Homo sapiens: one gene and its partner. The protein of the gene in region 2 interacts with the protein of the main gene of each other region in a pairwise test. Each region holds a gene or a part of one and is shown on either strand. Other genes may lie near its edges.

Region 1 (7,622 bases), on a different chromosome or scaffold from region 2:
TCTTACTTAAGGCTGGAGAATAATGCCTTTAAGATAATCATGGCCCACTGGGGCAGCACCACCTCCCTGACCCCGTTGGGTGGAGGACCCATTAAAAGTGGCAGCATGACCCCCACAGGCAGGGAAGGCACTGCCCATGCTGTGTCTCTCTGCTGTGGCCCTGCCCATGAGGCAATTTCCTGTGGAGGGTGGGGTTGCACTCTCAGTGATCTGCTGGCCTTCTCTTCCTTCACTGATCCCCTGGGTGTTGGTCCTACCTTTAGAAATTAAAACAGCACCCCTCCCCCAGCCCATCCACTCTGGGCTTGTGGTGGGAGAGGCAGCCTTGGGGATATCTGAATTGCCTTTAGGATCTCTCTTCTTTTGTCTTGGAGAATCATGCATGTTTGCAGTGAAATTGTTCTATGGTTTGGTCCTGTGGAGTCTAAGAAATCTGACAGTCTTTGGTCATTTTGTCCTGTTTTTGTTTGTTTCCTTTAGTCTCAGTTGGCAGTGTTACCGCTGGTGTAATCTCTTCTCTGTTCCTGGCTTTTATTGAGATGGTTGATCATCTTTACACAGTCCTTTGCATGCAGATGTACGTATTTGGAGTTGAACAGTTTTCTATATAGCCTTTAAAGCTCGAGGCATAGAGTGCACAGTCTCCCTTCTGCATTTCAATTATTGTTAGTCTAGAGGAGAGACAATTACAAATTACATACATGATTTTATTAACGCGGGAAAATAAAAATGAATCATACCTATTGAACTTCAAATACAGGAACTTAATACCATTTTAGGAGATTATGGACCATGCCTGGTCCTAATTCATAAACAAAATATAGCCAACTCAGATAATAAAAATAAAAATTATAAATAATGCGCCACTCTTTTTATCATACATCAGAAACTAGCCAATTCTGAAGTCTAAAATCTCTTCATATGTATACCCAAGTTAAATGAAAACTTTAGAATGTTTATTTTAAAACAAATATTTAAGTGAGAAATAAATTCAGTGTTCAATTTAGAATTTGATACTGTGTTTTGTGGAAAAATAAAACATTTTCTTCAGATATATGCAATTTTACTTGGTAAGGAAATGAAAATAAAATTTCAAATCTAATACATACATACACACATTCACAAGTGTGTATAAGTGTGTGTGTGTGTGTGTGTGCATATGTTTAGGCATTCCATGTGGAGATTTCTATATCTATATATGTGTTTTACTCTGGCATCTTTAATCTTTTGGAGTTATATGATTAATAATGATACTTTGTTTTCTTTCATAAGAGATGGGAAATAGAAAGCTCAAGAAAGAGTGAGGATGTCACTTCAATGTAAAATTGACAAAAAAATAAAAAGATTATGGTCTGATGCTATCCCTATTTAAAAAGACGATGTAATGATCTCTGTTCTGTAACTGAACAATCGGCCACTGTAGGGAGAAAACTATTCTTAAAGAGTTTTTGTTTTGTTGTTTGTTTGTTTTTAGACAGAATCTTGCTCCGCTGCCAAGGCTGGAGTGCACTGGTTCAATCTCGGCTCACTGCAAACTCTGCCTCCCAAGTTCAAGTGATTCTCCTGTGTCAGTTTCGTAAGTAGCTGGGATTACAGGCATGTGCCACCACATCCGGCTAATTTTTTTATTTTTAGTAGAGATGGTGTTTCACTACGTTGCCAGGCTGGTTATAAACTCCTGACCTAAAGCAATACACCCACCTCGGCCTCCCAAAGTGCTGGGATTACAGGTGTGAGCCACTGCACCCGGCCCCAGCTGAGATTTTTTAATAACTGCTCTTACTAGGTTCAGTCTACATTAGAGTCTCGTTCTTTTTTTCTTTCTTTCCTCTCTCTCTTTTTTTTTTTTTTGACAGTGTTTTGCTCTTGTCAGCCAGGCTGGAGTGCAGTGGCGCAATCTCGGCTCACTGCAACCTCCACCTCCTGGGTTCAAGCAATTCTGCTGCCCCTCAGCCTCAGGAGTAGCTGGGGTTACAGGCACTTGCCACCACATCTGGCTAATTTTTGTATTTTTAGTAAAGATGAGCTTTCACCATGTTGGCCAAGCTGGACTTGAACTCCTGACCTCAGGTCCTCCCAAAGTGCTGGGATCACAGGCGTGAGCCACTGCACCCGGCCTCATTCTTTTTAATATCACTTTGTCCATGTGTTCCTTCGATTTCTTTCTCTGTTTTTTCATACTACTTTCATTACACTTCTGCCAGAGTACCTAACTAACTACACTGGATTATTTGTTTGTAACTACATCTCTGACTAGAGTTTGAAGCTCTAAAATGAGTTTTATTCTACTCATCTCTGTAGTTATCTCTGCATAATTCCTGGAAATTGTGCAGTAATCAACCAATATTTACTACATGCATAAACAGAAAGTTAGTATGCTAGTTGTTTTGCTTCTGAAAAAAAATTTTGTCCTTGTAGATAGGAAAATATTGAGAAACTATGATATAAACTCTTATTTTTTAGAGAATCAATGTTTTTTCTGTTAAAAAAACTCTCAAGCCATACATAAATGAGGCCATCCTGGATCAATTCTAAGGTATACTGGGGCTTCCAAATTACAAATAGATAATAAGGAAGGAAGGTAGGGAGTTCTTGCTACAATAAACACAAGGGGAAAATTGAAAATAACACATGAGAGTAAAAGGTTGTGCATTGATCATTGCCAATTAATCATTAAAGTAGCAAAGTAAATTTAAAAATCAGCGAAAAGAGCACTTTTTTAGTCATTTAATAGTAAGTCTGGCTCCAGAGCCAGAAATATATATATTTGAGTCCTCATTGCAACAATTATTCATTTTGTAACTTAAGTGAGTTATTTAACATGTTAAGATTCTGTTGTATACCATTAGAATTAGGTTAAAATAACACCTGTATACAGGATTGTTAAGTATATTTAATGAAAGGATACATTTAAGTGCTTAAATCTGTGTCTGACAGACAGGAAGCACCTAATTAACCTAATTTTAACATTGATATTGTTGTGACTTTTTATTACATTGAAGAATTGGAAATTCAAATATCTAAAGTCCCCTTGAAATAAAGAATTATAATATTTACAATCTAGAGGACTTCTGCAATATTTGTGATATTATGAGACTGAAAAAAGGAAAAGCAGTAGTGACAAAATGCTTAGGTTTCATTCCTGATCGTTGTAGCTGAATGAAGAAATTACTGAACAGTGTAGTGACAGGTCAGATCTTTCAAATGGTAGAAATGACCTTTCTTGAATACTCTAGCATTAATCTGGAGAATTACAACTATATTCATAAGATCAGTGAACATTAAGATGTTGTCACTTAGTCTGGGTGTGCTGAATTGCTCTGTGCAATCAAGTGGGTAAAAGAGCAGGCTATAAAAACTACAGACATGGGACACTTCAGAATCCAGAAAGACCAAGCTGTAGTTCACCGGACACAGAAATGGAGATAAGAGATTTGAAGAAATAAAGAAATGTAAAGATATGCAGAAGGTCACCTTTGAATATTCAGCAGAGTACTTACTAATGCATGTATGTAAAAAACTACTCCAGGATGGAGAAAGAACTGTCTGAAAAGATTTAGGGTAAACAATACTTAGTGCTAACATAGGGTCTAGTATTTTGCCTGTTTCTACCAGCCATATTACAAAACTTTGTATTTCAAAGGTTATCACATAGAATACATAGAAAACAGCAGAATAAACATTTCTGATCAAATACACCTAAAACATTTTTAAAAACACACTATAGTCTAGTCCATAACACTGATGTCAATAAATTTAAGTTTTAAATTATACAAAATAATTCGCTAATGAAAATGAAATTAAATTAGAAATCAATAATAAAAATGTCTGAAAAATTCACAAATGTTGAAAACTAAATGACACATGTAAATAATCAATGAATCAAAGAATGCAAAAGACAATTTAGAAACTATTTTTAACTGAATGGAAACAAAAAGTAGTATCTCAAAATATGACGGGATGTTGCCAAATCATCTCACATATTAATAGTATAACTTTTATTAGAAAAAAAGGTTTCAAATCAACATATCAGCTTTCAATATAAGAAACTAAAAAAGCAAATTTAACCTACTATAAGAAGACAGTAAATAATAAAGATCAAAGCAGAAATCAGTGAGAAGAAAATTTTTACCTAAATGGCAAATAAGCACACACAAAAAAATGCTACTTAACATCATTGCATTAGTAAAATGCAAGTTAAAACTACATTCATATACCAAAACACATCATTTAGTGTGTCTGAAATTTACTTATTTATTTATTTATTTATTTATGAGACAGGGTCTTGCTCTGTCACTCAGGCTGGAGTGCAGCGGCGCAATCTCGGCTCACTGCAACCTCCGTCTCCCGGGTTCAAGCCATTCCCCTGCCTCAGCCTCCCGAGTAGCTGGGATTACAGACACCTGCCACCCCGTCCAGCTAATTTTTGTATTTTTAGTAGAGACAGGGTTTCACTGCATTGGCCAGGTTGGTCTTGAACTCATGACCTCAAGTGATCTGCCTGCCTCGGCCTCCCAAAGTGCTGGGATTATAGGCATAAACCACTGCACCCAGCCAGTATAAAATTTAAGAGGCTGATCAAAACAAGTGTTGACTAGGATGTGAAGCAACTTCTCTGTCAGATTTTCTCTTACATACTGCTAGGTAGAAAGTAAAATTTGTAAAATATCATCACCACTTTGGATAACAGTGTGGCACTTTAAAAAAAGTTAAGTATATACTTATATGATTCAGCCATTTTGTTTCTAGGTGTTTATGTTAAGGGAAAGAAAGATTTCGTTAATATGATACAAATACTTGTACACAAATATTATTAGCAAGTAGCATTATTTGTAATGATCAATAACTGGGAATTACCTAAATATACATCAATAAATGAAGAGATAAAAGGAAATTAACTCTTTACTCATGCAATGAGATGGCTGAATCTCAAGATAACTTTTCTAAGTGAAAATAAGACATTGCAAATGATATATATTGTAGGACTTCATTTATATTAAATTCTATGAATTGCAAACTAATCTAAAGTGACAGAAAACTGATTGACTGGAAAGAGAAAGAGGTAAGGACATAGGGACACAGAGGAGAAATCACAAAGGTGCATGCTTAGAGAATGTTTTCCAGGTAATTTATATGTTAACTATCTTGATGTTCTTTATGTTTTCATGGGCTCATATAGTTCTCGAGACTTATCAAATTGTATACTTTATATATGTGCAATTTATTATATGTTAATTATATCTCAACATGTCTGGTAATAAATTCAAAAAGAAATGTATGTAATATTTAACCTCTCTGTTTCTGTCTCTTTATCTGTAAAACGAACATATTAGACCTGCCTTCCACAGTACTTACCATATAGTAAACAATTTGTATTACTTACTAGTATTTGTGTTGGCTGCTCTACAACTAATACAACTTTCTCCCAAATTTAGGGCCTAAGCACTTTTTACTAAATCTATTAGAATGTGCAAATGTCCTGGGATTATGTGAGATGAGTGATTAGAATTATTACAGGGAAAACTTAGGAAAAAAATTAAAAAGAAGAGACTCATTGGGTCAGAGACTTACAGGTTGGGTGAGAGAATGGAGCCATCTTCCCACTGCCAAGATCCATTTGTTGGAATGTGTACTAGTCCCATCCAATGATATGACTTCACCAGTTTAAGTAAATCCTGTTTGAAACCACAAATAAACTATAAGTAAAATCAGTGTTGATAATTTTAGTAAACGCAAGACCATAACCATTTCATCTGTTCTCACACTTGTAAAAAAATGCATTCTGTCCACTAACTGGCATAATTCTCATCCGAGCACACATACATGATACCTACAATTTCTGTGCTTTGTTATTTTCAATGAAGAAAGATTTAGGGTTGGTATTAGAATAACCAAGTCACAGTGTCCCTTATATGTTCTAGGTTCATATTCCAGTGAGTTGTCTCAGATGTTAGGATTAAATACAGGATGGGAAATTAAAATAAATACTCAACCTGGTCCTCTTTGCTGTATACTTTCAGAAGGCTGGCATTTTGAGACATACAAGAAGCCTGGCTCTCATACCAGTTTTTACTCTCATCAAAAAATTGGTAGCAGTTATTTTTGTAACATATCCAGTTTTTAGGACATGGGCCACAGTAACTTTCTGGAAAAGGAGAATATATTATTAATTCTACACATCTGAACCATTATAGCAGATTTTGTCTAGACAAATTAAATGCCTTTTTCACTCCAACTCTAAAATTTCAGATTATTAAATTATTACAGTCATAACCAAAGGCATATCTCTACATATTCATAGAGAGAAGCCAGGCTGGGTGTGGTGTCTCATGCCTGTAATCCTAGCACTTTGGGAGGCCAAGGCAGGTGACTCACTTGAGGTTAGAAGTTTGATACCAGCCTGGCCAACATGGTGAAACCCTGCCTCTACTAAAAATACAAAAATTAGCCGGGTGTGGTGGCTCACGCCTGCAGTCCCAGCTACTTGGAAGCTGAGGCAGGAGAATTGCTTGAACCTAGGAGGTAGAGGTTGCAGTCCCAGGTACTTGGGAGGCTGAGGCATGAGAATTGCTTGAAACTGGGAGGCGAAGGTTGCATTGTGCTGAGATCACCCCACTGCACTCCAGCCTGGGTGACAGAGTGAGACCCCATCTCAAAAAAAAAAAAAAAAAAAAGAGAGAGAGAGAGAGAAAGATGATGTCAAACCTAAGTAGCCTCTACTTTTTACAAGTATTCCCTCATTGTTAAAAGGAAAACAGAAGCCATAGTGTATTACAGACTAGAATTAATTACTTTTTCCTTTTTTAATCATGGAATACATGTCTACACAATAATGTAGGTAGATACATATAATATATGATCTAAAATATTTTAAAAATTCACTTACCGGTCAAGGGAATTTGAACTTCTTGGTTGAATAATGCTATTAAAATAACCATAAGTATTAAAAGTTTGTATTGTTAGTAACTTATAGTATAAGCAAATATAGTTTACAAATTTCTGGACTAATAGCAAAAATGTGACAAAGATACATTTAATATTTCTAGTTTATGTGTCTGTGTTTATGAATACTAACAAAAATAATACATTAGCATTGTTAAATTGACAATGTTGCAATCTACTTCTCTGTTGTCACTTACAGTTTAGGAATACAGCACTCCATATTGTTACCATAATAATGAAACGGATTCCCATGGCTACAGCGATGAAGCAGCAGAAAAAAAATGGAGATGCTGTCAAAGAAAAAAGACACAGATCAGAGAAAGAAGCATAAAAGGTTTGGGTATCTTTGTATTTAATATAAATATTAGAGTTTTTTAAATGAGAAGGTGGTATTGATCCTTTTTCTGCCTTAATAATTTTTTCCAGAACAGAACATAAATACCTCGCAAATGATCAAAAACTAGAGTACAACAATGTAATATTTCCTTCTATACTTCTCTACAAGTTCCCCAGTCATCCCTAGAGTAAATTATGCTTATGATTTTTTGTTGTTATTGTTTTTTTTTTTTTTTTTTTTTTTTGAGACGGAGTCTCGCTCTGTCGCCCAGGCTGGAGTGCAGTGGCGCGATCTCGGCTCACTGCAAGCTCCACCTCCTGGGTTCACGCCATTCTCCTGCCTC
Region 2 (7,978 bases):
TCGGCTTCACACTCACAAGACATCCTGACCTGCAGCGTGAGGGGTCCTGCCCCAATCAGAAAGAGATCAGCCCTGGTGTTTACAAATTCTCTTCCCTGTCCCACATCCTCCTATGCTGAGACCATTCTCATCTGGTCCTGTTGTCTCCTCCAAGTCCTGCCCTTGCTGCTGGGCTTCATGGAGGTCCCATGTCTAATTTCTTCTCCCCACACACAGAACAGCCCCTGAGCCCACAGTCTGCTCCCTTCTGTCCTTGGTCTCTTTCACTCACCACTGGGTGTGAAATCCTCCAGCTCAGTGTCAGCCAGTTCCAGTCTGAGCCTCTGCCCCACCTCTCTCAGCATTTCCAGTTGTTTTCCCCAGGCATCTGTGGCATACAGCTGCTCTTCTAGGTGACCCATAGATAAGACCTTGTCACTGCCACAGTCATAGGAGAGAAAATTCTTCTGATCCACCTGGCTCTGGACCTCACACCACTGTTGCCCATGTCTGGGCAAATGAATGATGGTGAAGTTATACCAGAGAGAGTGAGCGTCTAAGGAAAAAAAAAAAAAACACCAGAGAGTGTTGGGGTGGGGGAAAGACCCCAAACACTGTGACAGCAAGAGGGTTTCCTGAAGGGCTGGGCTGGCAGAGCATGGATTTCTCTTCCTGGACGGTGGTCTCTGCCTGTGGAGGAACCATGGGTCGCTAACATGTCTATCTCCCCACTCTGCCCAGGCCTATACTCACATCCGTCAGCACAGGACCCTGCCAGGGAGGTGGCAGGCCCACTACAGGAAGAAGGACTTAGATGGCAGGATCTGCAGGAGCAGCCCAGGTGGACTGCAAGAGGCGGGAGAGTGTGGGAGGGCACCCTGAGGATGTTGGAGCGTGGTGCAGTGGGTACGATGTAGTTAACATTGGATAAGGATGAGTTCATTTATTATGGGTAACAAGACATGGTAAGTTCCCTGGAATGTGGTCAGCTGCTAGTAGGTTGCCCTTGGAACCTTGGAAAAAGGAATGACCCACACCGCATGAAACAGAAAACCCAGGTCTTACGTGGCAGGTTGTACAGGAAGGAACAAAATACTAAGAGAAGTGCCCATGCCAGAGTGACTGCAGTATGAAAATCCAGAACAATGTTCACCCTCTGTGCTCAAGGGAAGCCTGGAAGACTCCTGTTTACCTAGCATATAAAGAAGGCCCCAGGAGAAGGCAGCAGACTGTCAAGAAGCTCAGGGATGCCTGTTGCTGAAGCCCAGGGTCAGGGGTAGGAGATGCTCTTCCTGAAATGGGCTCCCAGTAGTAATGGGGATGGAAAATCCTGAAATAAGAGATCTCAAGTGGAGGCCGTCAACTGTCAGCAGGAAGGAGGGTGCAATGATGGAAATAATTAGAGAAGTCACAATGCTAGCTGGGGTCCTCAGTCTTACAAAGCTATGCCCATGGCTCATAGAACAAAAGGGTCCAAGATCCAAAAGAGATGGAGACTCCACCCGGATACTACTAGATTTAAATAATTACCACAAAGACAAAATGCAAGGATGGATGACCAGGAGGCTGAAAGTTGTCACCCCGGGAAATAACTGAGCTCCCTCGCCCAGCTTTGAGAACTGAGCCACATCTCAGACGCAGAGTCCATTACTAGAAGGAGAGCCCAGAGCCCCTGGTGGGCTCCTTCAACCCCACAGCAATTGCAATGACTCCTTCAGCCTCCCCCACAGAGCCAGATGGGTAGTCACTCTGGTAACTGTACACCATGAAACAGCAAATACTCAGACACTCCTAGTGGACACAGTGTGTGATCCGAGCTCTTCCCAGGGATGTGAAGCATTAACTTGCTCCCCTGTTACTCATGAGGTGCATTTGGGGCAAAGTAACAGATGGACTTCTGTGTCAGGTCCAGCTTAGAGGGATGTGCTGGGTTCATAGACCCATTCAATGGTAATTTCACATTTCCTGGATTTCTACCGGGAATGGATAGTGTTTGTAGTTAATGTAGTAACTATTATAGTTTGTGCTGGTCATATGACCTCCCCTGTCACTACTCAACTCTGCTCTTATAGCTGGGATGCAGCCATACACACTCTGTGATGAGGGGTGTGGCTGGACCTGCCACTACAGCTATTTGACCCTGGACTCCCTAAGATCCCAGAAGCATGTGTGGTTGGAAAAGGTGCTATGTGGATTTCATGGCTATTCCCAACCACAGAATCCAACAGGGTCCCCTAGTGCTCAGAAGCAAAGCTGTGCCACTCACAGCAGTGAAATCCCCTCATTTAAAAGTGGCTCCTGCTGTGGTCCTGGGCCCCTGTGGAGATGGGCCTCCAGCTATGGGAGGGCAGTGACCACACAGCCTCAGAGCTGCCCATCACAGGGTGTGCTCCTCACCCTTTAGGTCATTAGGAAGATAGGCCCCACAGTGAGAAGACACAGGTGGGTCTCCTGGGATGGGCAGGAGCAGGGCCACAGGGAACCAAGAAGCTGCACAAGCAGTTGGCTCTGATCCCCAGGACACCACATGGCTACACCCCCCCACCCTCAGGTCACACCTGAGGCTTCAGGGAGGGTCCCTGAATGGCCCCTGGGGACCGTTAATGCTACTCAGCAACAAAGGAGGGGAGCAGTAGGCCCCGAACCATGGGACTCCCCCTCACATTCATCACATCCACACCTCCCAGAAGCCACAGGCAGGGTAGGACACACTTGTGACTCTTCAACTTACACAACTTAGAGATGACACCCTAGGGGATGGGGCAGCAATTGCCAGGACACAGCATGTGCCCTCATCTGGAGTCTGCAACCTAGGACAGGGTCCATTTCAGGTTTCTCTTTTACTTGCAGGTTGCCATTGCCTGCTGTTGCTCTACAAAGGGACGGGACTTGACACAGAGACAGAGAACTCACGGCCAGCAAGGACCAAAGTGCCTTCAGCCTTTCCTTTCTAGAAAGGGTTTGCTGACTCCTGTCTGCTTAGTGACTATTCTATATGACGCTGGCGTCACCCATGTCTTGACCCCAGCTCGGGTTCCGGGGGCTCTGGTTTCTCCTTCCCGAGGACGAGTGGGGCTGCGGGGTTGCACCAGGGATCCCCTCCCCACCTCGCCCTCTGCAGCTTTTTGGCCCCTCCACCCTCCTGCGGTTCTTTTTTCGCCTTCTTTGACCCCCCTCCTGCTCTGCAGGGCAAGCAGCAGCCGCAGGAAGCGGACCTGGCGAAAAAGAGCAGCGAATCGGAACTGAGCGTGGGGGCAGTCCGGGGAGATCGCGCCGGTCCTTCTAGAAGGCTTCCCTCCTCTGAAACCCGCTGCAGTCCACAGCCCCCCAGGTTTGGCCCCCGCCCCGCTTAGGCTCCATCCCCGAACTCACCGGCCCGCCCCGTCCCGGACCAGTCGAATAGCAGGTACGGAAGAATCGCGAGGCGCGGAAGGATCGCGGGGCTGGCGGCCGCTGCCATTGTAGACCAGGAGCGCCCGGGACACAAGGCGCAGTCGATGTGGAGACCAGCGTATGAATCACTTCGGCCCTCGCATGCCAGCTAGTGATTGAGTGTGCTCGGCCCCGTCCGGTCCCGTCCCGCCCCGGGATCCAGGGGAGCCTACGCCTGCCCACGTTTGGAGGGATGCTCCGCCCTATCCCGCCCCGTCCCGCCCTTCCCCGCCCCACCCCAGGCTGGGACCCGGGGAGCCTATGCCTGCTGTGGCTCCGCTTCGTCCCGCCCCGGGCTCGTGGCCTGACAGCGGCCCCCTCTGGCCAACCCTTACCCTCCACCCCAGGCTCCGCGCGGGCCAGGACACGATTCCTTCTTGACCGCCTCATTTAATTTTTTAACACACCATTTATTATTACCCCAATGTAAGCACTGATGCACAGGAAAGCGAAGAAACTTGCACAGGGATATCCAGTGGCGGCTGTGTCCCCCCGTCACTGCCTCCGCCAGCGACACCTGCCCTCCTTCAGCCTGCGCCAAGGAGTCCCCGCCCCTCTCCGTCCAGGGCGCAGCTGCTTCCCAGTCCGGAGCAGACCTTCTTTGCCTCTCCACTAAAAGCATGAGGAATATATAGAATATATATAGAATAAAGTATATTCTATATCCCTTTATGACTTCTGGGAAAAAAAAGAAAGAAAAGAAAGCCCTAGTGGCCTACCGTGATCAGTGATCAAATGATCAATTGTGTTTCCATGGAGAGCAGAAGCCGAGGGAGGGTCTACGCATGCGTGGGGCTCACTTTGCTGTACACCCATCTGTGGCCAGCTACACGCAAATCCATGGCTGCACGCGCATCTCTGCCCTGTCCCTGGATGGTGACTGCAGCCATCCTCAAAGCGGCAACCCGAGTGTATCCTCGTCTCAGTCACCATGGAAACATCTAGATCTGTGGGCAGAAGCCAGAGGGAGGTGATGGGCCCAGTGGCCCTTGGCCGCAAGGGAGGGCTTTAGCCTGGGATGAGGAGTGGACAGAGATCTTGAGTGCCACTCAGGCCCCAGCCACTCAGCCCATTCCCTATTGAATGAGAAAAATCGGCACAGACCTCCCACTCCGTACAGTCTTCATGTTGGGATCACCTGCACCTGGTGATCATCAATCCCGAGGGTCCTGAGGCTGTGGGAAAGAGGAGGAGGCCTGGACAAAGCCCAGGGCCTGTTTCTGCTTCAGGACAGAGTCATGGGAGGGCAGCCACCTCTGTGACTGAGCAGGGACACAGGAGCCTAGAAGATTCTGGCCTGATGCACTAGAGCCCCTGTGCAGGAGGGGCCATGTGGAGGGTAGTTTGGAGGACAACAGACACACAAGGGTGGGCAGTTCTCAGATTTGGGAGGGGCAGAGCTTGGCGGGTCCCAGGATCTGTGTGTGAGAAGAGCCTCCCATGTACAGGGCTGGGGGCAGGAGCCCAGGTTAGTCCTGGGAGGAGGCCTCTGGGAAGGCCCTGGCAGCACCACCCCGAGGCCAGGTGACCTGGGCCAGTGACTGGGGGAACAGGAGGAAGGTAGAAGGAGGCTGGCAGGAGAGCCCCAAGCAGGACAGGAGGAGGGGCTTTTGTGCACACCTGGGCCCTCCTGACTCACCCCTGCTGCAGGCATCTGGCCAACAGACTCAGGCCTGCCCAGGATGGGGATAGAAGTGGCCCAAATGTTATTGTAATGGCCGGGATCTAGAGATCATGCATTCAGATATGGAAGTCAGCTGATATTGTGGCTGAATATTCCTGTGCAAGCTTCTTCAGCTTTCTAGGAATGGATGTCTGCATGTGGAAAATGACAAATGCTATGAACACAGATGAAATGAGCAGATTCTACAAGGAACCCTGTCCTTGCACATGCTAAGGACCCAGGGCAGGTCTCCTATTTCAGTTGTGAGGCCTCCAGCTCTCCCTGAAGTCAGCAACTGCCAGGCCCACCCTGAGGAGAGCTGGATCTCTGAGCCCAGGCCATGGCCTCTTCATGGCCCTGGGGGCGCTGTGATGGGGAGGAAATGAAAACAAGACCCACCATCAAGACTCAGGCATGTTTTTCAGACCCACAGAGGATGATTTTTCTCTCCATCACCTGGTGAGCCTGACGTGATGTAAGGGTGGTTGGAAGCTGAGTGAACCAGTGAATGAATGAGACAGTTGTGGGAGTGAATGGGACTCAGAAGAATAGCACAGGTTCAGAGGGGAGCTGGAGCGGAGGTTGTAACCCCCAGCGGCCTGAAGGTGGCAGCATCGAGGTTGGTAATTTTTTTTTTTTTTTGCCTTTTTTAGTTGTTGGGTTTTATTTGTTGTTTTCCGGTTTGTTTGTTTTTGAGACAGTCTCACTCTGTCGCCCAGACTGGAGTGCAATGGGACGATCTCAGCTCACTACAATCTCTGCCACCCGGGTTCAAGCGATTCTCTTCCCTCAGCCTCCCGAGTAGCTGGGATTAGAGGCACCTGCCACCACCCCCGGCTAATTTTTGCAATTTTAATAGAGACAGGGTCTCACCGTGTTGGCCAGGCTGATCTCGAACTCCCGGCCTCAGGTGATCTGCCTGCCTCGGCCTCCCAAAGTGTTGGGATTACAGGCGTGAGCCACTTCGCCTGGCCCCAACTTGGAAATTTGAATCTCCACCTGGGTGTCCACAAAGATTTTCCAAGGAAGAGTAACTTTGGTTTTCAACCAGTCTGGGGGGTGCTTCATCAGGATAGAATCTTCTAGAAAACATAGTGTGATGACGGACAGCAAACTGCTGTCTTCAGTTGGTTTGACTGAGCCTAGAGTGCACCAGGGCCAGGAAAATCTTGTCTTTTTCTTGCCTTTTTTTTTTTTTGAGACGTTGTCTCATACTATCGCCCGGGCTGGTGTGCAGTGGTGTGATCTAGGCTCGCTGCAACCTCCGCCTCCCGGGTTCAAGCGATTTTCCTGCCTCAGCCTCCTGAGTGGCTAGGATTACAGGCATCCCCACCATGCCCGGCTAGTTTTTTGTATTTTTAGTCGAGATGGGGTTTCACTATGTTGGCTAGGCTGGTCTCGAACTCCTGATCTCATGATCCGCCCGCCTTGGCCTCCCAAAGTGCTGGTATTACAGGCGTGAGCCACCGCGCATGGCTGAAATACTTGCCTTTTAAGCAAAGAAAGAACGAGTCTGAAAGTGGGAATGGAAATGGGAAAAGATAACCGGGCCAGGAGGAAAGAGGAGAAAAGAAGGGTTGGGGTCTGAGAGGTAGCAAGGATTCAAGCATTTCCTGCCCCATGGCCTGGAGTTGCAAGTGGGCGGGGCAGGGCTACTGGAGCTGTGACAGCCTTGAGGGCCAGGGTGACTCACGCAGCGGCTCTCTGCTTCCTCTGGGTGTGTCACACCCTGGGCTCCTGGTCCCCAGTGGCACAGGTGCTGGCGCGAAGTTGGGTGTTTGCCTCCAGCCTCTGCTCCTGCTGCCAGGCTGGTCCAGGGCAGGTTGGGGCGGGGCAGTGAGTTCTAGGGCTGGACCCTAAGCAGGGGTGTGGGCAAATATGGGGGTCTTGGACTGCAGGGGGTCAGGAGAGGGGAGGCTTCTGGAAGTTCCTGAAGGTTGCCCTGGGATTTAATGCGACATTGCTAGCTAGAGCCAGCTTGGCATGGGGAGAGCGATGCGAGACTGATGAAAAGCGTGCAGCCTGATTTAAAGCCAAACCCTGAGTCCTTTCTAAGAACAATAAAGCATATTGTAGTCGCTAAAAGAAACAAATACAAAAAAAATTAAAAAGTAGCCTTTCTTCGCAGATACAGCACGTTTTATTTTTAATCTTTACATTTAACATTGTCTTTTGAAAATAGTGTATATTATTTGATATTTTAAAATCCAACCTGGGAGTTTCAGTGATTTATGTGATAAGTTTAGTAGTTCACTTTTATTGTAATTACTACTGTTTAGGATTTAGCTCTGCCATCTTTTTTATTTATTATTTATTTATTTTTATTTATTTATTTTTTCTCTGTCGCCCAGGCTGTAGTGCAGTGGCACGGTCTCGGCTTGATGCAAGCTCCTCCTCCTGGGTTCATACCGTTCTCCTGCTTCAGCCTCCCGAGTAACTGGGACTATAGGCGCCCGCCACCACGCCCAGCTAGTTTTTTTTTTTTTTTTTTTTTTTTTTTTTGTATTTTTAGTAGAGACGAGGTTTCACCTTGTTAGCCAGGATGGTCTCAATCTCCTGACCTTGTGATCCACCCACCTCTGCCTCCCATAGTGCTGGGATTACAGGCATGAGCCACCGTGCCCAGCCTATCTATTTATTTTTTTTAAGATATGGGGTCTTCCTCTGTTGCCCAGGTTGGAGTGCAGCCGCGTGGTCATAGCTCACTGCAGCCTCTAACTCCTGGGCTCAGGCCATCTTACTGCCTCAGCCTCCGAGTAGCCAGGACTACAAGCATGCGCCACCCACTGGGCTAATTTTCTATATTTGTCTGTAGAGATGGGGTCTGCCTATATTGCCCAGGCTGGTCTTGAACTCCTGAGCTCAAGCGATCCTCCTGCCTTGGCCTCCCAAAGTGCAGGGATT

Evidence for each region. The genes of interacting proteins can lie anywhere in the genome.
Region 1: the proteins of ULBP3 (region 2) and KLRK1 interact in binary tests that used the Homo sapiens proteins (3 or more experiments, as listed by UniProt).

Annotation. Positions count from the first base shown.
Region 1 is NC_000012.12:10,372,561-10,380,182, forward strand, and holds part of KLRK1 (NKG2-D type II integral membrane protein), read right to left. Parts: intron 7,277-7,622; exon of another isoform or gene 7,233-7,276; coding exon 7,140-7,232; intron 6,923-7,139; coding exon 6,887-6,922; intron 6,146-6,886; coding exon 5,994-6,145; intron 5,676-5,993; coding exon 5,572-5,675; intron 1,577-5,571; exon of another isoform or gene 1,475-1,576; intron 672-1,474; coding exon 554-671; 3' UTR 1-553. Other genes in the region: KLRC4-KLRK1 (NKG2-D type II integral membrane protein), read right to left, coding at 554-671, 5,572-5,675, 5,994-6,145, 6,887-6,922, 7,140-7,232.
Region 2 is NC_000006.12:150,065,628-150,073,605, forward strand, and holds the start of ULBP3 (UL16-binding protein 3 precursor), read right to left. Parts: upstream 3,495-7,978; 5' UTR 3,440-3,494; coding exon 3,352-3,439; intron 536-3,351; coding exon 272-535; intron 47-271; coding exon 1-46.